Homo sapiens: one gene and its partners. The protein of the gene in region 2 purifies or fractionates together with the protein of the main gene of each other region. This does not show direct contact. Each region holds a gene or a part of one and is shown on either strand. Other genes may lie near its edges.

Region 1 (7,640 bases), on a different chromosome or scaffold from region 2:
GAGCCCAGGAGTTCGAGACCAGCCTGACCAGACTCTATAAAGAAATACAAAAAATAGCCGGGCATGGTGGTGTGTGCCTGTGGTCTCAGCTACTCAGGAGGCTGATGTGGGAGGATCATGTGAGCCCAGGAGGTCGAGGCTGCAGTGAGTTGTGATTGCACCACTGTGCTCCAGCCTGGGTGACAGAATGAAACCCTGTCTGAAGGAAAAAAAAAAAAAAGTGATGAGACAGAATGAGACCTCAAGAGTTCAAGCACTGCTTGGGGCTTGTCTAAAGTTCTGACAGGAGGCAGGGAGGCAGTGCCAGCAGAGCAGGCTGAGCAGTGGCCAGCGAGGGAGGAAGACGGACGTGAGGGAGGAGCGCTTCCAGGATAGGGAGGTCACATCTGCTCAATGCCGTTGAGAGGTCAAGGAAAATGACTTCTGACAACAGATTATCGGATTTAGCAACTTGGAAGGAATTAGTGACCTTGATAGATTGACTGGTAGAATCAAAAACCAAACTGGAACAGGTTCAAAGGAGGATGGGAGGTGAGGGGAGAGGGTGTGTGTGTAAGCAGCTCTTTTGAGATGTTTTGCTGAAAGCAGGGATAGAAATGGCCCATAGCTTGAGGAGCAAGTAGAAAATAGCCTAACACGAGAAGGTGAGACTGTGGAAGGTGCAAAATCAGTGTAAATCCATTAGCACTATGGCCAAAATCATTCACAAGGTTTTTGCTGAGGAATTGGGCGCCCCCATTGCCATCCTTAAAAACAGGGCAACATCATAAGTAGTAATCTGGAGCACTATTTTCTTTCTACAGTGCAGAATGGGTACATGATAATCTCTGGGCTGAGCTGTTATCTTTTCTGGGTCCCTCTACCACCTTCGGGGTAGTGATGTGAGCAGGAGGGACAGATGCTGTCTCAGGTGGAAGGGTAGCCACACCCTTTCCCAAAAGTATAGGAACTGTTCCAGATCACTTTTTGGCCTCACTCTGGAGGGCCCAGGCTATTTCATTCTAAACCACTTGGCCCATCCTTGTCTAAGATTCCCTCTGGTTCAGTGTGTGGCTGGAATCTGGCTTTTTGTGTCCCTGATTTGTGTCCCAAGCAGCATTTGAACTTTTTTTTTTTTTAAGAGACAGAGTCTATGTTGCCCAGGCTGGAGTGCAGTGGCTGTTTACAGGAGCCATCAGAGGGCACTGCAGCCTCAAACTCCTAGGTTCAGGGGATCCTCTTGCCTCAGCCTCCTGGGATTATGGGTGCAAGCCCCCATGCCAGGCAGATTTAGAAGATTTTGAACAATGAAGTGTCTGTAATGCTCAGAGGAGCAAGCACACCTATACAGGGAGCATGGGGTCTTAGTAAATTCTTGCTGCACTCATAGCTGGGGGAAGAGCAGTATAGAGAAACAGAAGGTTTGAGGAGGGAAGAGGAAGAAAGGCCCTACCTCAGCCTGCCAAGTAGTCCTCACAACGGTCAGGAAAGTATTTATCACCCCCATATCATAGGTAAAGAAACTGCCAGGCTGGGAACAGTGATGCACACCTGTAATCATAGCACTTTGAGAGGCTAAGGCAGGTGGATCACTTGAGCCCAGGAGTTCAAGACCAGCTTGGGCAATGTGGTGAGGCTCCTTCTATACAGAAAAGTACAAAAATTAGCTGAGCATGGTGGCACATGCCTGTGGCTCCAGCTACTCAGGAGGCTGAGGTGGGAGGGCTGCTTGAGCTCTGGAGGCAGAAGCTGCAGTGAGCAGGGATTGTGCCACTGTACTCCAGCCTGGGTGACAGAGCCAAGACTCTGTCTCAAAAGATTTAAAAAAAAAAAAAAAAAAAAAAAGGAAACTACCTTGCCTGAGGCTCTAAATCTAGTTACTGCTTCCAACCATTTCAGGATTCAATTGGGAAGAGGTGGTGTTTGAACAGGCTTGGGGGCCCTTGATGCTTGCATCAACTTAATTCTCACTAAAAAACAAAAGTCTGCGTCCGGACGAGGTGGCTCAGGCCTGTAATCCCAGCACTTTGGGAGGCTGGGGTGGGTGGATCACCTGAGGTCAGGAGTTCAAGACCAGCTTGGCCAACATGGTGAAACCCTATCTGTGAGAGGTGACAGCATGCTGGCAGTCCTCACAGCTCTCGCTCGCTCTCAGCGCCTCCTCTGCCTGGGCTCCCACTTTGGCGGCACTTGAGGAGCCCTTCAGCCTGCCGCTGCACTGTGGGAGCCCCTTTCTGGGCTGGCCAAGGCCGGACCCGGCTCCCTCAGCTTGCGGTGTGGTGTGGAGGGAGAGTCGTGGGCGGAACCGGAGCTGCGAGCGGTGCTTGCGGGCCAGGGCGAGTTCCAGGTGGGCGTGGGCTCGGCGGGCCTCGCACTCGGAGCCGCGGCCGTCCCCGCCGGCCCCGGGCAGTGAGGGGCTTAGCACCTGGGTCAGCAGCTGCTGTGCTCAATTTCTCGCAGGGCCTTAGCTGCCTTCCCCCGGGGCAGGGCTCGGGACCCGCAGCCCGCCATGCCTGAGCCTCCCCCCACTCCATGGGCTCCTGTGCGGCCCGAGCCTCCCCAATGAGCACCGCCCCCTGCTCCACGGCACCCAGTGCCATCGACCACCCAAGGGCTGAGGAGTGTGGGCACACAGTGCGGGACTAGCAGGCAGCTCCACCTGCAGCCCCAGTGCGGGACCCACTGGGTGAAGCCAGCTGGGCTCCTGAGTCTGGTGGGGACATGGAGAACCTTTATGTCTAGCTAAGGGATTGTAAATACACCAATCGGCACTCTGTATCTAGCTCAAGGTTTGTAAACACACCAATCAGCACCCTGTGTCTAGCTCAGGGTTTGTGAATGCACCAATCAACACTCTGTATCTAACTACGCTGGTGGGGACTTGGAGAACCTTTGTGTCGACACTCTATCTAGCTAATCTGGTGGGGACATGGAGAACCTTTGTGTCTAGCTCAGGGATTGTAAACACACCAATCAGCACCCTGTCAAAACAGACCACTCTGCTCTACCAATCAGCAGGATGTGGGTAGGGCTAGATGAGAGAATAAAAGCAGGCTGCCCGAGCCAGCAGTGGCAACCCACTCTGGTCCCCTTCCACGCTGTAGGAGTGTTGTTCTTTCGCTCTTTGGGTCCACACTGCCTTTATGAGCCGTTAACATTCACTGTGAAGGTCTGCAGCTTCACTCCTGAGCCAGGGAGACCACGAACCCACCAGAAGGAAGAAACTCCAGATGCGCCACCTTAAGAGCTGTAACACTCACCACGAGGGTCCGCGGCTTCATTCTTGAAGTCGGTGAGACCAAGAACCCACCAATTCTGGACACATCTGTACTAAAAATACAAAAATAAGCCAAACGTGGTGGTGCATGCCTATGGTCCCAGCTACTCAGTGTGGTTGAGGCAGGAGAATTGCTTGAAACTGGATGGCAGAGGTTACAGTGAGCTATCACACCACTGCATTCCAGCCTGGGCGACAGAACGAGACTCTATATCAAAAAAAGAAAACAGGCCAGGCGTGGTGGCTCACGCCTGTAATCCCACCACTTTGGGAGGCAGAGGCGGGCAGATCACAAGGTCAGGAGATCAAGACCATCCTGGCTAACACAGTGAAACCCCGTCTCTACTAAAAATACAAAAAATTAGCCGGGCGTGGTGGCAGGCGCCTGTAGTCCCAGCTACTTGGGAGGCTGAGGCAGGAGAATGGCGTGAACCTGGGAGGCGGAGCTTGCAGTGAGCTGAGATTGCACCACTGCACTCCAGCCTGGGCAACAGAGCAAGACTCCGTCTCAAAAAAAAAAAAAAAAAAAGAAAACAGAAAAACAAAATTCTTAGTATAAAAGTCTTGAAATCACAGAGTTCTGACTTTGACTGCCCCTGCTTCTGGGAGCTACAGATCATGCTGTGGGCTGCCTCCACGGTCTGGTAACTCAAGGGTGACCGGGGTGAGGCACAGTTCCTTCAGAGCTACCTAGCTGAGTGTAAATGGGTTGTTCAAATTGCACTAGGGAGCCGGAGTTGCGTGGGTTTTAATTTAAAGATGTAAGTACAAATCTATGTGCATTGTAGAAAATTCGGAAAAGGTCCAACTGCCTAGCAAGTAAAAAGCTGTCATTCCAGCACGTGGGGGGTGACCGCTTCTCCCTTCTTGGGTGTTTTTTGGTGGATTTTTTTTGGTGACCCCGACTGGCCTAGACTCCATTCAAGGGCACATCTTGTGCAGTAAAACACGCATGTTTCAGGGCTCCTCACTGCAACACGTGCACCTCCAGGCTGGCGCTCAGCGCTCCCAGTAAAAGCTGCAGGCGGCGGTGTAGATAGTCGCCGGCCTTTCCTCCTCCCCACCTCGTGACGCTTTGTGCTGCGGAAGCAAAGGCCCGTTCCATTCCCCGTGTCTTCCCAGCAGCCGCCACCAATGCTCCTTTCTAGGAAACAGCCTTCCATTCTCTCTTAGGGCCGATCTTAGCGAGAGCCGCGATGCGGGCGACTGGTGCCGGGGTGGGTTGGGGGCGGGGGTGGGAATCAGGCCCCACTGCCAGGAGCCCGGGCCGCGCCTTCCGCTCTGACCTCATCCGGCCGCCCAGGCACTGGGCGCGGCAGCGAATCGGCGGCGCGGGCGGCCGGGAACGCCCAGCACAAATATTTACCGCCGCGCGGAGAGTGAGGGCCCAAGTCCGCCCTGCTCCGCCACTTAGGCCGCCCCAGACGCTTCCCTCGGGGCTGCCACCGGGTCGGGCGCGGCTGCCGCGGCTAGCGGGCCTTCCCCGCACCGGCGCGGCCCAACCGCCACCGAACCTTCTGGAAGCGGCGGCTGCCTGGGCCCCCACGCCGCCAGAATCGTACGCCCGCGCGAGCTCTCTGCAGCCTTGGCGGCCTGGGAGGCGGGGCTCGGGGTGGGGCCGGCGCGGGGGCGGGGTCGGCGCGGGGAGGCCGCGTTCGATTGCCCCCGGCGCGCAGGCCCCGCCTCACCAGCCCCATCGCTCCACCTCTGCCCTCCCCCTTTATGGCGCGGCCCGGGCTCATTCATTCCGCGCCGGGCCTGCCAGACACCTGCGCCCTTCTGCAGCCGCCCGCCGCATCCGCCGCCGCAGCCCCCAGCATGTCGGGCCCAGACGTCGAGACGCCGTCCGCCATCCAGATCTGCCGGTAAGAGAGGGCCCGCGCGCAGCCTGCAGCGGCCAGGCGCGCCGGTCACCGCCCCAGGCCTGCCCCGCTTGGCTCTGTGGTCCCCACCCGCCGAGGCCGCCCCCGCCCGCCGATTCCCCGCACGGCCTTCCGCGCCGCCGCCCCGGACGCCCGCCCGGCCGGGATGCGACTCGCGATGCCGCACAAGCCGGGCGGCCCCCGCCCGCCTCCAGCCGGCTCCTCCTGGCCGCATCTCCAGGGCGGCGGCCGCGCCACGGGCCGTTTGGGCGAGAAAGCCAGGCAGGGACGGGGCGGGCGGAGGTCAATGCACAGCTCCAGAGCCCGGCGACCGGCGCCCGTGGGCCGCCCCGCCTCGGGCCTCGCCCGAGCATCCCGGAGCCTCAGCCCCGTGGTCCTGCTTAGCCTCCTCGAGGATTCGGGATCATTACCTCGGCGGTTGTGCTGCGCTAACCAAAGCCCCCAGAGGTGGAGGGGAGGTGCCCAGAGCCGCGCGAGCCCCTCGGTGGGTGCCCCTGTGGGAGGAGGTTGCAGAGCTACCGTCTTCAGTGCACTGCTTCGGTTTGGGGGAGGGCAGGTGTTGAAAGGAAGAACAGATAATACTGTCTACCTCTAACAGTTTACTATGAAGAAAAGGGAATCAGTGGTCTGTTGGGCCTGAAAGCATCTTACACAATAGAGGCAAAGGGTTGTCCTTCTAGAGCACCCCCTCTTCTTCCACCAGGTACTGAGTAGATAGATGCAGGCCCCCAGAGGAAGCTGGAGGCTGGAGATCATGAACAAGCTCATTTCCCATAGGAGGTGGGGAGGGCAGCCTGAAGGTTACTCTGCAGTTCTCTTCGGCAGAATCGGAAGCAGCAGGCTGGCATTTGTGCATGAGCTAAGTGAGGACAAGGAGTCTAGGTTTTCAGCCACTGCACACAGGCTCTGTGGCCTGCGACCGGTCCTATCCTGCTTGATGAACTACCAGGAGTGAGAGCTGCTTTCTGTTTTGGTAGTGGGTTCCTCACATTTGGGGGTTGGGCATCACAGACTGACCTTGGGCTCAAGCCAAGTCCAATAGAAGCAAGTTACTTTCCTGTAGATGTTGACATCTCCAGGAAGGCTGGGCATATAGCAAGTCCTGGGTCTATGGCGATTCTTGACTCTCAGTCTCATCTTCTGGCCTGGTCGAGGGCCTCTCCTTACCTCAAGGTCGGTTTTGACTTTTCCAGAGGGGGAACGTCTTTGGGGGAGCCCTGCCCCTTTGACTTTGGCTCTGTGGCTGTTCTGGTCCCATCGACTCTGGAGGTGGGGAAAGCGGGGCAAAAAAAAAAAAGGAAATAACTGGAGACAGACAGCCTGCATCAGGTTCCTGAATCAGCTCTGCTGAGTATTGGCTGGGAAACTTGGGCTCCATGGTTTGCAAAGAGCTTATACCTGTCTCATCCCACTTGGTTTGCCCAATTCCCTGGGAGGTTGATGGTCGGTAGTGCCACCCTTACCTGTGTGGAGGAGGAAATGGCAGTTTTGGGAGTTGAGTAACTGTGTAAGGTCATCCTGCTCCAGGAGATCCAGGGACAGCCCCTGCCCAAGTCTTCTGACTCCAGATCCAGTATTCTTCCCACCCCTCTCCTGAATAAAGGAAACCTTGATTTAAATCTTCCCGTGGAAGGCTGGCCTTTTATTTACTTCTTCAGGGTGGTGAATAGCCAATTTATACATGTTGTCTTTTTTCACCCAGCTTCTAACAGTTACTAGATTTTTTGTTTTTTGAGACAGAGTCTCACTCTGTCACCCGGGCTGGAGTGCAGTGGCCCGATCTCAGCTCACTGCAACCCCTGCCTCCTGGGCTCAAGTGATTCTTGGGCCTCAGCCTCCCGAGTAGCTGGGACTACAAGAGTGCGCCACCACGCCTGGCTAATTTTTGTGTTTTTAGTAGAGATGGGGTTTCTCCATGTTGGCCAGGCTGGTCTCGAACTCCTGACCTCAGGTGATCTGTGATCTGCCCTCCTCGGCCTCCCAAAGTGCTGGGATTACAGGTGTGAACCACCGCACCCAGCTGGAAAAAGTTCTTGTGCCTCAGCCTCCTGAGTAGCTGGGACTACAGGCGTGCGCCACCACGCCCAGCTAATTTTTGTATTTTTAGTAGAGATGGGGTTTCATCATGTTGGCCAGGCTGGTCTTGAACTCCTGACCTCAGGTGATCCTCCCGCCTCAGCCTCTCAAAGTGCTGGGATTACAGGCGTGAGCCACTGCTCCTAGCCTAGTTACTAGATTTTTGTATAGCTTTAGACACTTCCATACAGTAAGTGTGTGCTTTTTGTTTGTTTGTTTGTTTGTTTTTGAGACAGTCTCGCTCTGTCACCCAGACTGGAATGCAATGGCACGATCTCAGCTCACTGCAACCTCTGCCTCCTGGGTTCAAGCGATTCTTCCACCTCAGCCTCCTGAGTTGCTGGGATTATAGGTACCCGCCATCATGTCTGGCTAATTTTTGTATTTTTAGTAGAGACGGGGTTTCACCATGTTGGCCAGGCTGG
Region 2 (7,343 bases):
GCTGGGGAGGAGAGCCCAGGCAGGAAGGTTTCCTGTGGTCAGAAAAGCCAGGAAATGACCCTTAAAGCCAGGGGAGGCAGAAGGCTAGACGAGCTGGCCTCCAGGGGCCCCGTCACACACCTCAAACCAGCCTCAGCACTGGGCTGGTCCAGAGGGCTTGGAGGGAGCAAGTCTGGCTAAGGCCTTACCTTAAACCTTCTGGGCAGGGCCTGGGGAGGGCATGGGGGACCCCAGGGCTTGAACTCAAGCTCCAGCCCAGGCTCTCGGCACTGTGTGATGCCAGGCGAGTGTCTGTCCCTCCATAGACCTGGATGACCTCTGTGAGCCCTTTACATCTTCTGCATGCCTGCCAAACACCAAGTCTGTGTCCTCACAGACCTTAAGCCACAGGCCAGGTTGCAGGAAACGGCAAGGGGAAGTCTATTTTAGGCCCAATTATAGCCAATGAGGAGTCCTGCCTGGCAAAGGCAAGTGAGCTGGCATCCCAAGCTGGGTCAGAGGTAGTTTGCTGGGCTGGACTGGGGAGGGAGATAGTGAGCAGGCATCAGGGATAAATCGGGCAGAGCCCCTGCTGCCCAGGGCAAACAGTGCACCAAGGGAAGGGAGAGGAGAGAGAGCTCCTGAGCCCAGCGTCCTGGAAGAAGCTGGTGCCCCCGATATGAGGTCTCAGCAGATCCTCATAACACGCTTGGATGGGCGAGTTCTCAGAGAGGTGAAGTCACTTGCCTAAGGTCACACAGCCTGGCAATGGCAGAAGTGGGACTTAACCACTATCCATGTGACACCAAAGCATATATTCTTCCATTTTCCCCTAGATTTCTCTTCTCCAGGCTCCTTAATCTCAGATGCTTCAGCAAGCCACCTGCCTCCCTGGGCTTGGCTCACACTCCCTAGCTCTTGACCTGCTCATGTTCTGGGCCCAGAGGGTAACTGGACTGCAAGTCTCACCCTGACAGTCCCCAGGGTCCCCACCAGCCCCATTGTCTGCAGTTCATGGCTCTGGGTTCCTCTCTCAGACTCACCATGGGAACAAGAAAACCCTACACTTGCCTCCCTGAGCACCAGTCAGGTGGGCAATAGAACCTGGGATGGATGGAACTGAGAGTGCTGGGCCTCCCATGAGGGAGCCAGTGAGGCAGTCACCAAAGACTTGACACCTCCACCCCAGTGGGATTCCAGACCCAGGCCAGGGTCTGGACCTAAATGCAGGTTGAACCTGGTCCTCAGACCCAGACAGCCCCAGCTCAGCTTCTGGCCTGGCCCCAGGCTGAGCCCTATCCTGGCCTCCTAGCCTCAGTTTCCCCTCAGACTGAGCCCACCCTCCCCTGGAGCTAAGACACAAACACAGGACAGCAGCCCACCTTCTTAGGGTTAGGACTTGGCCCGCTGGGGGTTAGCCTAGGATGGAGCATTGAATTTTATTTTTTTTTTTTTGAGACGCAGTCTCGCTCTGTAGCCCAGACTGGAGTGCGATGGCACAATCTTGGCTCACTGCAACCTCCACCTCCCGGGTTCAAGCAGTTCTCCTGCCTCAGCCTCCCAAATAGGTAGGATTATAGGCGCCCACCACCGCACCTGGCTAATTTTTTTTTCTTTGTATTTTTAGTAGAGATGGGGTTTCACCATGTTGGCCAGGCTGGTTTACAACTCCTGACCTCAGGTGATCCGCCCACCTCGGCCTCTCAAAGTGCTGGGATTACAGGCGTGAGCCACCGCGCCTGGCCTGGAGCATTGAAATTTAAGTATGAGCCTGCTGTTCCTCCAGGCTTGTACTGTATGTACTTCCTTTTGGAATTCTAGCACAGCCAGCAAGCAGAGTGGCACCCACTACCTTTGGTCCATGACTCCAAGGCAGTCATCTACTCAGACCCCTGCATACAGCCACACTGTGGTGGCTCTGATTCTGTGACCCAGGATCCCCACCCCAGGCAGGGCCTGGCTGGGGCATGGCACCTGTACCCCTGCCTCCAGGTCCCCATCACAGCTCGTCCCAGTTTACTGGGACCTTGTGCTGTGTACCTACAATGAGGTGCACACATTCTCTGGGCCCACTTGCCCAGCTGTACCATGTGAAGTTCAACAAGATGGTCTCTGAGGTCCCTGAGCTCAGGGATTCCAGTGCTGACTCCATGGGTTCAGTTGAGATGCCAGGATTTTATAAAGCCTGTGATTCTGAGAGTCCTTTGTTCTCAAGCCTGTGGTTCCCCAAGCTCCATAAAAAGCGAGTCTAAATCTTTCCTGTGGCTTCCACAACTCCTTCCCTGTCTACTCACTGTGGAGCAACCCAGATGCTGGTAGACTCTCAGGGAGGAGCCCACGTCACAGTGGTTTCAGGGTCAGAGCTGGCTGCAGGAGGAGCTGGCGCATCCACCCAGCAGTAAATAATAATTAGGCTCCCTCCTAACCTGGGGGTTGCAGGAGCGAGAAGTGTTTGGGCTGTGGCCCCAGGAGACCTACTCTATGGAGCTGCTGCCAGGGCAGCCAGGTAGCCGCCTCCCACAGAGAACTTCAGGCAACATGTCTGGCACCCCAGTTTTCAGATGAGGAAACTGAGTTGGGGGTGGATTTGATGAAAACCTCACAGAGAGCTGGTGGTAGAGAGGGGCCTGGACCCTCTCTGGGATGTCTGATTAATAGCCAGTGCTCCAAAAAGCATTTCCCCATTTAGTTTATTGATTGAGACAAGGTCTCACTCTCTCACCTAGGCTGGAGTGCAGTGGCACGATCGCGGCTCACTGCAGTCTCAACTTCCTGGGCTCAAGTGATTCTCCCACATATTTTTGTAGAGACTGGGCTTCATCATGTTGCCCAGGCTGGTCTCGAACTCCTGGGCTAAGTGATCCTCCCAACTCAGCCTCCCAAGGTGCTAGGATTACAGGTGTGACCACTACACCTGGCCTTCCCCATTTGGTTTATTGAGTGACGACACCTGAAATTGCCACCATTTGAACTCTAGAACCTAGAGCTGGGGTGTAGATGGTCCCCTTACAAAGAAAACATTTCCAGGAGTGGAGGCATTCTGGATGCTCTGGCCTTCCGTAGGCTGGGATGTGGGACCCTGGAAGAACCCCTGCCCCAGCCCTGGAGGTCTCCATTGACATATGAGGGTGCTGATGTCATGATCCTGACATCAATGACCTGTAGCTCCTTATGCCCTTCCCCCACAACCTGAGCATGACCCAGGGAAATGAAAACTCATCCCCTGCTCCCCTCCCCATGCGGTGTCCAGTTCGCCTCCTGGAATCTCCTGGACCCTGGGGACCTGACCTTTTCCGTCTCCTAGCCCCTGGGTTCAGATTCTATGACTGTTTAGAACCCCACCCCCAGCCATCTATCCCCAGCTGACTTATTTACCTTCCTTTCTCCATCTCTGTCATGGGCTGTGATTATCCTGACCCCAGCCAGGCCTCTGGCCCAGCACTAGGTCCTCCCTGGTGTCTCAGTCTCCCATCAGCCCTACTGTCCCAGGAGGACCGCCTGAGATCCCCTGAATAGTACTGAGAGGGGGAACGGGCCACTGAGCTGCTCCCTCCAGTCCTGGCACACCCTGTAGCACAACTCCAGGGGACACGATTCGGAGTCGGAATACAGTGTGAATACTGCCTGGAGTTTGTGATGACTGGCATTGGAAACTGGCAGGGTGGGATGGCTGTAGTAGGGAGGGGGGCACTGAGTCACCTGTCCTGCTGGAGGGAAACTAACTACCCTGGCACAGAGAAGTGGTGCGGGGAGTAGGGGAGTGGAGGCAGGAGACGCCTCCTGGAGGATTTCACTAGGCCTTGAAGGATGTGCCGAAGCCCACCGTGTGGGCTTCCTTTATAGACTCACCTTCACCAGGCCTTTTCGCCAACTAGGTGAGGGTTTCCAGGGTTGGGCCTGGGCCTCGTCAACAAAGCAAAGTGAGGTTATTCTTCCTGGCCACCAACTGGCAGGAGGAAGATGAAGCCCAGAAAGGGGCAGAGGTGGCTCTAGTTACACTGGCAATGCTGAGAGGACCCAGAGGAGTATCTCAGTCTCCAGTCTCTTTATCTTGCTTCGCACAACTCCTTGCTTGGTTCAGAGCCTTGAAGAGGCGGATACAAGAGGCCCTCTGGGCACCGCCGCCCAGTCCCGCGCAGCCCCCTGCAGTTCCCAGGGGCGCGAGAGAGGGCGACGTAGAGCAGCACCGCCCAGCGGCAGAGCGGCGAGCCCCTCCGCGGCTCGGGGTGAGTCGGGCGCGGGGCGCAGACCGCGCTCTGACGTCGGGGGCGGAGCGGCCGTGACGCGCGGGGGCGGGTCTGCGCACCTTCCCGGCCCAGCCGGCGATTCATTCAAAAGGCGCGCAGGCTGCGCGGCTGTCCGGGCGCTCGCCGAGCCGGGCCGCGGCGCCGAGTCGAACGGGGAGCCGAGCTGGAGCTGCCGCGGCGCAGCCAGGTAAGGAGGGCGCGCGGAGCGCCCATCCAGAGTCTGCTCTCCGCGGCCGGGCCAGCGGGATACGGACCCTAGTGGCGCCCCCTGCCTCCCCGTGTCTCTGAGGAAGTTCGCGGGCTCGGCGGATGCGGCAGCCCGGCCGCGCGCCCCCCCACCCCACTCCTCCCGCCTCGCGTCCTGTCCCGGCGCCTTCCGCGCACCGGCCACCGCCAGTCTCCGAGCCCCGTGACCTGCAGGTCCTCCGGCCGCGACTCCGGGCCGGCCCTGCGTGGTGGCTGTCGGGGGGCGCGCGGGGAAGCAGCGGAACTTGCGGTGTGAGGGGCCGGCGGGGCCCGGAGCGGTCCCCGGCCCGGGAAACTTGGACCGAGACCAGGTTGTGGTGCGGGCTGGACGGCGGCGCCTCGGCGCGGCTGCGGCGCGGGGCGGCCAAGGGGGGGTCTGGATGGTGTCAGCCCGTGACTGTGGGTGACACGGCGCGTGAGGCGGCCTGGCCGGGCGAACGTGTGGCTGGGACACTGGGCGGTGACGCCGGGCCGAGCGGGCGACACAGAGGGGCTCTGTGTGTGGGAGACAGGCAGCGTGTGTGCGTGTGTTGTGTGAGGGAAAGACCCGGGGTCACTGGGGTCACGAAGTGCGTGGCTTGGGGCGTGACCGGCGCAGGGCCAGGGCCACCCGTTACTGTGAGTGTGAAATAGAGGGAGAGGAGCCCAAGTGACTGAGAACGAGCCGAGCTCGCTGGCGCCATGGTGTGCGTGTGGGGTCAAGTGGTGTCAGTGTGTGTGTGTGTGTGTGTGTGTCTGCGCCTAGGGTGATGATGAGTAAGAGGCAGGAGGAGGAGGGACCGGACCTAGGACACCTTCCGGCAGATGTGGGGCGATGAGGAAGTTGGGGAGCCAGGAGACAAGGGTCTCCAGGACTGTCCCCACGAGGGCACCCCTCAGGAGTTCAGCTTGGTGAGGAGATGGACCCTGAGGGATAGGCCCTGGCTGAGGGAGAAAGCCGAGGCTGGGCAACATCTGGTGGGGTGGCCCAGATGGCAGCAGGGTAGGGGCCCTGTGGTAGTCTCAGCTTCCCCCCGCCCACCTGCATCCACACACTCACGCATCGAAGTCCCTACACCTGGCAAAGTTCTGCCCCTGTGTAATCTGTATTCTCAGCGGACCCGGACACAATCTTGTTCTCAGACCCCCCCGCCCCCCTCCCCCGCGCAGGCCTCAGTCTCCCCATCTGCACACTGAGGTGCTGGGCTTTGAATGGACTGTGAATCATCACTTTGGGATCCTCTATTGTTTTGGGTCAACTGCCTGTGTTCTCCCTTCCCTTCAGGCAGAAAGACTGCAGTGGGGGGTGGGGGCAGGCTTCTCCTGGGGACACAGCGGCCCAGGGGCTGCACTCAGGGGCTACTGATAGGGTTGGAAGCACAGCCTTCTCCAAAACTGGTCAAGGAAACGTTAGCCTCCCACCCAAAGGCTTCCTGGTCCTCTGTCACGAAATGGATCCATAGACAATATGGATCCCCAAATCCATAGACATTCACTTCTCTGCCTGGGTGTCCTTTCTTCAGTTCCTTGGGTTGGGGGAGAGTGGGGAGAGACTTGTTCCCCAGGAGTGGTCTCTGGTCTGGGAGGCTAAGTTCTTGCTGGAGAGCTGGAGCGGTACCCTTTCGCCATCTGGGCAAGACCCTTCTGAGGCCCCTTCTCCCGTATGAAGGTCTGTGGGGTTCATGCAGGGTGGGGTGGAAGCTGAGCTCCCTAGTCTAGGAGAGGGTGGCACTTGCTGTAGAATCTGGAAGTTCTGTCTTCTGCTGTCGTCCTCTGAAAATGCTGATTACATTCTAGGGGTGGGGGACAGGGTGGGGGACAGTGTCAGGCACTGTTCTGAACACTTCATGGTGTTCTGTCTTGTTGAATCTTCGCAGTGATTCTGAGATGTAGTGACTGTGTTTCAGAGAAAGGAACTGAGGATCAGAGAAGCAAAGTGACTTGGCCAAGGTCATACAGAGTCAGGACAGTGCCAGGACTGGAATTCAGGTCTTCTGACCCCAGAGACCAGTGAGATGCTGGGAGAGAGGATCACCCACCTTCCTAATAACTGCTCATGGCTTTCCTGGACTTCTGTCTCTCAAACTTGGGCTAGTAGGCGTGGCCTAGCCAGGGCATTACATTGTGAGTTCTAAGTATGATGTGTGTGTGTGCACACATGTCTGGAACACTGGGGATGGGTGGGTTACATGGTCTTCCTGTTCCTCCCCAGACTTCACTCCCAACCAGACATCACCAGAAAGTCCTGTCCCCTGCCTTCTAGAGCCTGGACCTGGCTTTGGGGGTGTCCCCATGGCTTTGAAGAGTGTATGGAGTTAGCAGCACAGCCTAGGGGTAGCAGGGAAAATTGAGAGTCCCAGGTGACCTTCATCATACTTGAGAGGCCCCCTCCCCTTTGCAGTTGCTCTAGAGGCATTTCCCCAAATCCACCTGCATGTTATGGTGGGGAGCAGACAGGGAGTGACCTTGAGCTGGTCCCTACTCTCTCTGGGCCTCGGTCTCCCTGTTCTTCCCAGAGACCCCTTTTGGCTCTGACCACTGTTGCCACTTGGCCAAGAACTGGAACTGGGGATCAGGGTGTCCCTCGGTCCTCTCTGCAATGACTGGAGCTGTGCTTCTTGGGGCTGATGAAAATAGCTGTCGTGGTCTCTAGGGGCTGAGCCGGAGTTATTTCCATCCTCAACAAAGAGGTGGAAATAGCTTAGGGCCTGGGAGGGGGAGCAAGAGGAGAAGGGTTAACTTCTCCTTATCCCAGCCTTAAAGGAGGCCCCCAGCCTCAGCCTGTGCCCTGGCCAAGCCAAACCTTTCTGGGAACTTGGGCCTCTGGGGATGACAGTGGGGCCAGGCTGGGTTTCCACTTGTGACCACAGTTGGGACTGGTGTGATAGCTGC
Region 3 (4,105 bases), on a different chromosome or scaffold from region 2:
TTGCAAAGTCCTCCAGTTATTCATGTACATTTTATCCTCTTAGTAGAAGATAAGGGTCTTGTCTTTTCACCCACAAGTTGTACAGAAGAGTGTAAAGAACATGCTCTGAATGTCAGGAAGTGAGGATCCTGGGAGTTTAGCTCTGCAAGTAGTCCTGTAAAGGGCCTTGGACAAGTCATTCAACCACTCTGAGCCTCAGGGACTAACAGCATTAAAATGAATGAAGTGGTTGGAAGGAATCATTCTCTCTTGTCCCCTATAGCCCTATAGGGGTTTTAATTCGAAGACCATCTGTCTATATGGAGTAGAAATGTTTGCCTTTCATTCTCTCCTCATGCTAATTCAAGTTACTTGTCAAACCCAGTTCTCTGTACTGGATGCATGATGCCTCCTCACTCTGCCTCTAGGGCACTTTCACTAGTTAACTCTTACTAGGCATTTTATGAAAGTGCTAAATGCCATTGCAGTAATGCAGATGATATCTAAAGGAGGAAAGAAACAATGCAAAACAATCTCATTGTGCAATACACTTTTATTTTCCTTTTACCTTTGCAGTCATCTTCGAGTAATCGTTGTGTAAACAATAGAATGGAATGAAATTACATTAAATTGTATGCAAATGGCTCTAGAACACCTTAACAATTATGACAAGGCAATTATAAATAACTTTTTTTCCTTAGTAATATATATTTGCTTTTTGAAGTACATTAAAGAGCTGCCATATCTAGGGTTAGCTAGGAAAGAGCAATGGTACCATCCTGGGAGCCCACCTCCTTGAAAGATTAGACTCCAATTTTCAAAATCCTAAGGTTTACTAGTTCCATAATATACAGTCAAGCAGAGGGCTACTTGGGTTGAAAGTATTGATTCTTGAACCTTAACAGCGTTTTACCTTTTAGTCATTGCACAAAACCCTTCCAATTTTCACTCCACCTGGGTATTCTGCAAAATTTCAAGTAAAACTCAGATTCTGATATTTTCAAGTTTATCACCTTTAGAATAACAAATCCTATCACTTAAGGAGAGCCAAATCAGAGATGGGTATATAGTTAGCAATCTAACAGAATGGCAACATTTTACATAGCATTCTAAACGGTCCAATGAAGCAAAACTTAACATATGCCACCTTATATAGAGGAAATTTTAGATCTGAGACTATTCCAGAGTAAAGCAGCCTCAGGCACATTCTTAATGTGAAAGTTTGCAAGGCACCTCCCTCTCCCAAGAGACAGTCAGATTGTAAATTGGTTTTTAGGCAAACAGACTAAAAGAATAAGCATCCAAATTCCTAATTCAGTCATTTCAAAATTTAGAAGTTACAAATACTCCAAAGACAGACCCAAAACTTTTTGTTTAAATAACGAGATTAACTGCAAGAAGCATATAATCAAAACCCTTTTTTTCTTATAGCTAAGGTGTGTAATGCATAAATATATGAAAAATAAAATTCACAGTCAGTTTTAAAACTAGAATTCAAGTTTGGCTAATAAATCTTAATTTTATAAGTATATTAATTTCTAAATACAACATAAAAGAGGCAGTATTGTCAGATGTACAATTAAAGTATTATAACAGAAATAACAACAATGAAAGGAGAAATAGGCTTCTGGATAGAAAATTCCTTTTGTTGCCAATAAATAAGACCACCTGAGTGTATTTCAGATTCTTTTCACTTAAGGGATATCCAAATTGATTGCTAAGAATATTAAATAGCTTTTGGAAAAATGAGCAACAGTCGTGCAGCTGTGGCATTTGCTTGTTCTTGTACTGTGGATTGCTAGAGAATAAAGCAGAACTCGGAGTGTTGTAAGTTTTAAAAAATTATTTTTTTATCCCATTTTGTTGAAGCCGGCCTCTTCACAATCTTCTGATTTTGCTAGGAAATGGGAGTGAGGGGGTGGGAGGAAATGGGCAGAAAGAGGGAGGGTTGAAGGGAGTAGGGGTGGCGGTGGGGCATGACAGATCAGGGTGACATCAAGGGACATACATCAGCTGACACTCAACTGAGCAAACCCAATCAGCTTCACTTCATCAGGAATCTCCGACCCATCACAGCCAGAAGCCTGAAAAGGGAAAAAGAAAGCCTCAATGCTGGTTTGCTGCTGCTGCTGGTTGTTAAAGTCTTGTTCCTATGATGGCAGATCTAAGCAAAGGCACAGTTGGTATGGGACCATGTGTCCCATTTCTTCCAGAAGAGAGACGCCAGCCACTCTCTCGAATGACTACTGGAAGCTAAGTGCTGTCAGCACTGTGGCCATCATGCTATGAAGTACAGAACAGAGGTGGGAAGGGATTTGTTATCCATTAAAATACCATGCCCAGGCTGGAAGCTTTGGAACAGTCAGTGAAACACCCCTGCTAAGAAACCACAAACAAATTTTTCAAAAACTAAATAAAATTATTTTAAATATACTTTCTAACTAAATCACCTTAGTAATCATTCTGAGAACAACATGAAAATAAGCAGAAGAGATCTAACAGGTCACCCAGGAGTAATTTAGTTTTTACCAAACTCATTTCTTCTATGAAACTTGCCAGGAAAAAGTCATCACCAAGTACTGCGATGGGCTCATTAGAGAGAACTGCTATATAAATACCAGTGAATAAGTTTTACAGGGAAAGGTATTATAACAATTCTTTTCTATAAAAGAATTTTGTTTATATTTTCAGACATATTAATTGCCTAAAATTGGCAAAAATTATGGTGTGTCAAATACTTTATTTTTCTTACTTCAGAATCAGACAGAACTGGAAAAAAGCCATTGCCTTGGCCAGGCATGGCGGCTCACGCCTGTAATCCCAGCACTTTGGGGGGCCGAGGCAGGTGGATCATGAGGTCAGGAGATCGAGACCATCCTGGCCAACATGGTGAAACCCCGTCTCTACTAAAATACAAAAAATTAGCCAGGTTTGGTGGCACACACCTGTAGTGCCAGCTACTTGGGAGGCTGAGGGCTGAGGCAGGGGAATCACTTGAACCGGGGAGGCAGAGGTTGCAGTGAGCCGAGATCGTGCCACTGCACTCCAGCCTGGCGACAGAGCGAGACTCCACCTCAGAAAAAAAAAAAAAAGGAAGCCATTTCCCTTCAAACCTCTCACTGGTCCTAATTAATAAGTTATTTCGTTTTTCTTGTGACCTCTCCCCCTTGCTTGCTTTTAGACACACACACACACACACACACACACACACTCTCTCTCTCTCTCTCTCTCTCTCTCTCTCTCCCCCCCCGCCCCCTCAGATCCACCATTCTAAGCTGCCTCTCATCCTATAGTACATAAATCAGAATTGGACATTACATAAGAACAACAAGGAAGGGAGAAAAAAGTATGATGAATGACTGGGAATGGGCAATTAATTACCAAAGGATCATACAAACCTTTTCAGAGCCTAATTCCTGCTAAATTATTGTCACAACAATTAGTTTCCCATGGAAACGTGCCCTTTCCAATCACCACAATTAAGCTGCATAGCACTGCTTGTATACATTTAGAATATGTACTATACTGTTTTTTGAACTGTACTGTTCATAGTGTACTGTTTTTTGAACTGTTCAAAAAAACAGTACAGAAAACCAGCATCAACTCTAGCATTTTCTATTAAATAATCAGCTAACTATAATGTTTGTACCTTGAATATTTTCAAATGATTATCTTTAAAATAACATCCTATGTAAGTAGTTATGCTTATGTAAAAAAGTCACTAGCCTAAAGGATAAAAATATTAATCAGTATTTAAAGAAAGGAATTTACTTTGTACCTATCCAGTGATATCTCTGGTTTCATCTGACAGATAAAGATGTTCAGAGAAGTAAAATTGTCATTGTTTGTGTTGACAGGGGCGATGAGGTCTGAAATGCTCTTCTCCTTATCACTTTCAACAAAGTAGTACAGGCATAGAGGGCATTTTGGCTGAGGTATTTCTGGTGGTGTCACACTGACACTGTAATATTCACCTTCCCTATCCATTTTCTCCTTGTGTTATCACTGTTTCTTTATCTACCTTCCTAAATCATCCCTTCTCTCTCATGTGTAGCTCTTGTTAACATCATTTACTCAACCCACTGAATAATGGCAGACAACCTGTGTAATTAACAGGCAACTGACA
Region 4 (6,975 bases), on a different chromosome or scaffold from region 2:
ATGGTACGTAAATTATATCTCAAAATTGTTTTTTTAAATGAAAAAATATTTATGCTAAGTGGAAGAAACCAAACATGAAAGACCACATGTTATATGATCCCATTTATATAAATGTCCAAAAAAGGCAAGTCCATAGAGACAAAAAGTAGATTTGTGGTTGTCTAAGGCTGGAGGTGGAAAAAGGGATTAACTCGTAAGAAAGCACAAGAGATCTCACGGGGATGATGGAAATATTCTAAAACTGGATTATGGTGATAGTTGTACGACACAGGGAATTTACTAAAAACCACTAAATGTTACACTTAAAATGGGTGAATTTTATATTAAATTATACCTCAGTAAAGTTGTTTTAAATCTATGAAAGATGGTCAAATCACATTGGAGTTCCTAACCTTTTAAAAACCATGGACCACTTTGTGAATGTGAGGAACACTAACCCTATCCAGAAGACTGAGAGACTCCCTTTTGCCCACTCACAGACATCCTATGGGTCTGAGGACACCAAATTAACAAATCACGAAATCTCTAGCGCCTTTGCAACTCTGAAATTCTCTGCCACCTTAACAGCAAAGGCTTTGAGAATGACTACAACCATCCTCTTCACCCTAGAAAGATGGATACACTACCAGAAAAAAAAAAAAAAAACTCTTCTTTTAAAATGATGATAGGGAACCTCCTCTTTACTTCTCTGACATCATTTTGGAATCTTCCATTTAATCCTTTCCTTCAATATGAAACTCTGACTGGGGGAACCAGAAGCAATCAGTCCAGACCGGGAACTAGCTGTCTTTAGAACCAACGAATACATGTCAAAGACCCAATATGTAGCAAGGACACAGGCCCATGAAGTGGCTTAAGCAAAGATGTGATGTCTTTATTTAGTCCGAGTTGTTTTGTTTTGTTTTTGTTTTTCCTATACGAACCAATATTGCTTTAAGCCCAGATTGTCTTAAAACAAGAGGCAAGTAAAAACAAAAATTATTTCACGAAGTTCTTTTTAAACCCACAGTGAAATAAACACTGACACCCCCAAGGCAGCTAGGAAGTCTTCAGTTGGTCTTTGTTATAAAACTAATTTTAGGGCAGGATGCTGGCAAAGCAGATAATTCGCCTTCCTCCAATACACAGGTGTCTGCTCATGTCCGTTGGATTGAGCCTGTATAGCTAAACATTTTGATTTCCAAGGTCACTGGGTTATTGTTGTCCAACAAATACTCCCCTCATCCCCAGTCCCCAGCCTCCTCCCAATCCCTAGGCTTCTGTGAGAATTACAATCTATGTGCAAGTTTTGGTCTCTGCCAACTGGTATTCCTGGACCCCCTTCAAATCTTTTCACACACCAGCCCAATTTATCGGATCACGTCAAGGCACTATTTGAGGGCCTCCAGTGATACTTAAAATTCCAAAATCTGTACCAAAGCTGAGAAGATCCCTAAGATCTGGCTCCTCCCTTCCCTCTCTATCCTTGCCAGCCTTCCTTCAGGTCCTAAAACAAATCAAGCTCTTCCCTTACTCAAGGCCACTGCATCTCTATATCCCTCTGTAAGGAAAAATCTTCCCGAGGCTCTTAATCCTCACTTCTCATGCTTCAGGGCTCAACTGAAATGTTATCGCCTCAGAAAAAGAATTTTCCTTGAAATCACCCTAAGTAGATCTCCAGGTTATTCTCTATCAGAACATCTTGTTTATCTCCTTCATGGCACTTGCCAAAGCCTCTTCAAATTTTTTTTTTTTTTTTTTTTTTTTTGAGTCAGAGTCAGGGTTTGTCGCCCAGGCTGGAGTGCAGTGGCGCGATCTCAGCTCACTGCAAGCTCCGCCTCCCGGGTTCAAGGATTCTTCTGCCTCAGCCTCCCGAGTAGCTGGGATTACAGGCGCGCACCACCACACCCAACTAATTTTTGTATTTTTAGTAGAGACGGGGTTTCACCATATTGGCCAGGCTGGTCTCGAACCCCCGACCTCGTGATCCGCCCGCCTCGGCCTCCCAAAGTGGTGGGATTACAGGCGTGAGCCACCACGCCCAGCCCTTCTTACTTCTTTTTGTCTTCTTATTTAATGTCTACCTCCCCGACTGGAAAGTCAGTTGGAAGGAGTCGTAAGTTGGGTCTCGGTTGCTCAGCGCGGTTCCTGCAGCTTCACCTGGAGGATCCCCAGTTCGCCCCAGCACGGATGGAGGAAAAACTTAAAGCTCCCTATCTATCCCACAATCCCAGAAATCGATGGCTGTGCCCACTTCAAGATCCCATTTCTCACACAGCCTCGGAAAGGCCTGTCCCACACCTGCACTTTCTTTCTCTACAAGACACATGGGCCGCTCCTGTCCACACATTTGAGAATCCTGTACACAAATCTCTCCTGAGCCCCCTCAAGCCTCACCCCACCCCACGCCACCTCACAGGCGCGCGCCTCAAAACCCCCTTCCCGTCTCACACGCGCTCCTCGACACAAGCGTCCTACAAGCCCCCAGCCCCACAAGCGCCCCACGAATTCCTATGAGGGCTGCGCTCCCCGAGCTCCCGCGGCTCCCCACGTTCCCGTGTCCCCCGCCTCCCAGCGCCGCGCCTCCCCCCTCCGCAGCGCCTGCTCTCACCGATCACCTCCTGCAGCTCGTAATCGTCCCTGTTGATGGACCAGGGCAGGGCGCTCGAGTCCTCGGACATGACGGCGGCAGCGGCTCGCGGTCCTCCCTCAAACTCGCTGACCTCGCTCGTCTCCTCGCCGCGCGTCTCCCCACCCCCAACAGCCGCCGCCGCCGCCGCCGCGCCCCCACCAATCGTCTCGGAACAGCCACGGGTCGGACGGCGCCGGGGCGCGGGGTCACCGCGCGGCAGAGCAGCGGGGGCTCAGAGCTCCGGCGGACCTCGCCTCCTGCTCCTCCGAGTCCGGCACTGCCCGGCCCAGCCCACGTCCTGTCCTCGGCCTCCGCAGCAGCAGCGACAGAAGCTTTGCCTGGGCCCAGCCCCTCTGTCCCGCCCTCCACCCCAGCCCCACGCACGGGCCAAACTTTCCCCTCTTCCTCCACCTGCCGACACGCAGCGCGCTGACGTCACTGCGCTGGTCACGCCCCACCTCGGGCCCGCCTCCGGCCGCCATCTCCAGTGTGGCTGGATGTAAAGTGAGCAAGCTAGAAACCCGAGAAGGTAGGAGTTCGCGGTGAAAGGGAAGAAGTGCTTAGGTAGAGGTTCATCGAAGGCATCGAAAAGCCGTAGGAGAGCCTCAAGTAGCACAGAGGCAGTAGCCACACTAAGCATGGCGACCAAAGGGCAGCAAAGTAGAAGGGGCAGAGCCACTTCTAGCGCCTGGGGCACGCTGCTGTCTCCGTCGTCGCATTCATTGGTTTGTTTGAGAAGGAATCAGAAAAGCAATGGGTGTGGGTAGACGTCAGTCATAAATTGGTCCCGCCTCCAGGCTCTTAGCGCGCTTCTCCGTGTTAGGGCTGCAGCCCTTCAAGAGCTCCGTTACCGCGCTCGTCTTACCACTTCCTCTGGAGTGACGTCACGGCGTAACCGTCACACCCTCGAGACGTGCGAAAGGCTCTACAGGGTGTGGAGAAACCCTGAGGGAGCGGCTGGGTGGGGTAGCCTTTGGGTGTGGACCACTGCCAACTAGGATAAAAGGCCTTGGGCCACTGGTCGGAGTGAAACTGGAAGTTTGCCTGGTGACATTTTTTTCAAGGCGGACGTTCTCTCTAACGCTTGTCGCGGCGCTGTCTCTCGCGGGTCCACCCTGCACTGGGCGGGTTCTGTCCATTCGCAGCTTTAGATCTGAAGCTCAAATAAGCACCTGCCTTGAGGGACTCGGGAGGTTGTCTTTCTTCCCCCCGGACAGGGCTTGGGGTATTAAACAAGTGAGATCGACCCACGGATTTGGGGGTTGTCTCACGGGCGTTGGCTTTTGTCGCCCCCACTGAACAGTTTTCTCAGTTTGACTACGTACGGCCGTTAGAGAAATTAGCGAGCTGAAGACTGAACACGCTTGGTAAATTGGATTTTAAAAAATAATGAGCATCCAACAGGGATAGGGCTAGGTGCGAAACTGTTCTAGGTTGGACACCTTTCAGTCCAACGGCAGTCTTTAAGGAAGAGACCTTAGGCCGGGTGCGGTGGCTCACGCCTGTAATCCCAACACTTTGGGAGGCGGAGGCGGGCGGACCACCTGAGGTCAGGAGTTCGAGACCATCCTGACCAACATGGTGAAACTCCCTCTCTACTAAAATACAGAAAAATCGCTGGGCGTGGTGGCTGGCGCCTGTAATCCCAGCTACTAGGGAGGCTGAAGCAGGAGGCGAAGGTTGCAGTGACCCGAGAGCATGCCACTGCACTCCAGTCTGGGCAACAGACGGAGACACCGTCTCAGAAAAAGGAAGAGACCTTCACCTAGGCCCAGCTGAGACGGAGCAGGGACCCCTTTTAGGGCCTGCAGGCCCTCAACCATGGAAATAAAGGAAAATCTTGAGTTACTTCAAGAGAAATTCCCGGCACTTAGCTAGCCTTGAAAAGTTAATGAACCCCTTGATAAGCAAGAGGGCAGTAATAACTTTAAACATTAGCCAAAGAAACTAAAATAACTGGATGTTTGGTTCCCTATAAAAACTAAAGATAACATCAACACATGTCCCTGAGTTGTTTTTTAGAAACCCAGACCCCCACCAAATGGATCTGCTGGCACATAGACCTCAGAGAATGGGGAGCTAAGGACTGAACTCTGACTGGTGGTTTGTTTTTTCTCTAAGTTTCTTCTTCCTGAAGAAGGTCATGCCCACAAGCTGTAGCTAACATTCTTTTCTACTGATCCGAAATTTTTAGACAAAGCTTCACCTCTTTTATCAATCGCAAATCAGAAAATCTTTGAATCCACCTATGACCTGTGGGCTCCTGCTTGGAGATGTCCCCCCTTTTTAGGTCAAACCAATGTATAACCTCTGTGTATTGATTTATGACTTTACCTGTAACTTCTTCTTTTCCGAAATTACCCCTATCTTTAAGAATGCTTGGCTGGGCGCGGTGGCTCACGCCAGGAAGTTTAGGTCCCCAGTATGTATTTCATAAGTTTATGAAATATGTATTATATATAATGTATATTTATATATATATTAAGCTTGAGCTACACTAATTCTCCCCTCTTGCTAGGCGCCCTGCCTTTCTACTGCAGCAAAACCTCCGTGTGGCAATCTAATGTCACTGCACTGGGCAAGTAGACCTTAGTTTGGTTCTAAAACACCGCCAAGCACTGGAAGCTCTGCGCTGAGCTCTGCTGTGGGAGGTCCAACTGACCATGAAACCAGTCAACTAGAAGCTACTAGCGGGTTTCCACCTAGTTGGTTGGATTGGAGAACGTTTCATGAAGAAGGTAGCATTTGTACCAGATCTTGCAAAGTTAACATGATTTCAACAGGTGCACATTTAGAGGATAGAATAGTCCAGGCTCAGCAAAGGTGCCGCAGTTCCAGAAAGCATAGCACAGGCCTTGCTGTAAGTGGTTTTCAGCCATTACTACTGACAGTTTCTTTACCATATGTTCTGCCTTTTTCTTTTTGCAGGGAGGAGAGGGATGGGGATCAAATGTATCAGAAAGGAGCTAAATCTGATGGTAAGAATTAGCCTCAAGGTTTGTACCAATAGAAAGGTCTACAAACCAGAAATTCTTGGCTTGGGGTTGTTGAGTTGTATGACCCATGGACATACTTCAGTTTTGTTTTTGTTTTGTTTTGTTTTATTTTGTTTTGTTTTTTTCTCCCTGGCACGGTGACTCAAACCTGCAATCCCAGCATTTTGGGAGGCCCAGGCAGGTGGATCACCTGAGGTCAGGAGTTCGAGACCAGCCTGGCCAACAGGGTAAAATCCCATCTCTACTAAAAATACAAAAATTAGCCACGCGTGGTGGCTGGCGCCTGTAATCCCAGCTACTCAGGAGGTTGAGGCAGGAGAATCGCTTGAACCCAGGAGGCAGAGGTTGTAGTGAGCCAAGATCATGCCACTGCACTCCAGCCTTAGCGACAGAGAGTGAGACTCCATCTCAAAAAAGAAAAAAAGAAATTATATATGTATTATATATGAAATATAGACAATATGTATGAAGTATATATACTATATATAAATATATATGAAATATGAAATATATAACATATATGAAACAACATGAAATCTATAATATATATGAAATATATAACATGAAATCTATAATATATATGAAATCTATAATATATATGAAATCTATAATATATGAAATATATAATATATATGAAATATATAATATATGAAATCTATAATATATGAAATATATAATATATATGAAATCTATAATATATGAAATATATAATATATATGAAATCTATAATATATGAAATATATAATATATATGAAATCTATAATATATGAAATATACATAATATATGAAATATATTATGTATATGAAATATACATAATATATGAAATATGTATATGAAATATACATAATATATGAAATATGTATATGAAATTACATAATATATGAAATATGTATATGAAATATACATAATATATGAAATATGTATATGAAATATACATAATATATGAAATATGTATATGAAATATACATAATATATGAAATATGTATATGAAATATACATAATATATGACATATGTATATGAAATATACATAATATATGACATATGTATATGAAATATACATAATATATGACATATGTATATGAAATATACATAATATATGACATATGTATATGAAATATACATAATATATGACATATGTATATGAAATATACATAATATATGACATATGTATATGAAATATACATAATATATGACATATGTATATGAAATATACATAATATATGACATATGTATATGAAATATACATAATATATGACATGTATATGAAATATACATAATATATGACATATGTATATGAAATATACATAATATATGACATATGTATATGAAATATACATAATATATGACATGTATATGAAATATACAT

What was found.
Region 1: the proteins of RELT (region 2) and ACOT7 purify together in Homo sapiens (affinity purification with mass spectrometry; 3 studies listed by BioGRID and IntAct, with this or other methods). This does not show direct contact.
Region 3: the proteins of RELT (region 2) and STK39 purify together in Homo sapiens (affinity purification with mass spectrometry; 4 studies listed by BioGRID and IntAct, with this or other methods). This does not show direct contact.
Region 4: the proteins of RELT (region 2) and OXSR1 purify together in Homo sapiens (affinity purification with mass spectrometry; 4 studies listed by BioGRID and IntAct, with this or other methods). This does not show direct contact.

The regions. Positions count from the first base shown.
Region 1 is NC_000001.11:6,390,738-6,398,377, reverse strand, and holds the start of ACOT7 (cytosolic acyl coenzyme A thioester hydrolase), read left to right. Parts: upstream 1-4,610; 5' UTR 4,611-4,978; coding exon 4,979-5,121; intron 5,122-7,640. UniProt on the Homo sapiens protein: Catalyzes the hydrolysis of acyl-CoAs into free fatty acids and coenzyme A (CoASH), regulating their respective intracellular levels.
Region 2 is NC_000011.10:73,372,087-73,379,429, forward strand, and holds the start of RELT (tumor necrosis factor receptor superfamily member 19L isoform 1 precursor), read left to right. Parts: upstream 1-4,312; 5' UTR 4,313-4,413; intron 4,414-4,581; exon of another isoform or gene 4,582-4,783; intron 4,784-7,343. UniProt on the Homo sapiens protein: May play a role in apoptosis. Induces activation of MAPK14/p38 and MAPK8/JNK MAPK cascades, when overexpressed. Involved in dental enamel formation.
Region 3 is NC_000002.12:167,953,508-167,957,612, forward strand, and holds the end of STK39 (STE20/SPS1-related proline-alanine-rich protein kinase), read right to left. Parts: exon of another isoform or gene 2,070-4,105; intron 2,064-2,069; coding exon 1,989-2,063; 3' UTR 515-1,988; downstream 1-514. UniProt on the Homo sapiens protein: Effector serine/threonine-protein kinase component of the WNK-SPAK/OSR1 kinase cascade, which is involved in various processes, such as ion transport, response to hypertonic stress and blood pressure.
Region 4 is NC_000003.12:38,161,562-38,168,536, reverse strand, and holds the start of OXSR1 (serine/threonine-protein kinase OSR1), read right to left. Parts: upstream 3,001-6,975; 5' UTR 2,661-3,000; coding exon 2,591-2,660; intron 1-2,590. UniProt on the Homo sapiens protein: Effector serine/threonine-protein kinase component of the WNK-SPAK/OSR1 kinase cascade, which is involved in various processes, such as ion transport, response to hypertonic stress and blood pressure.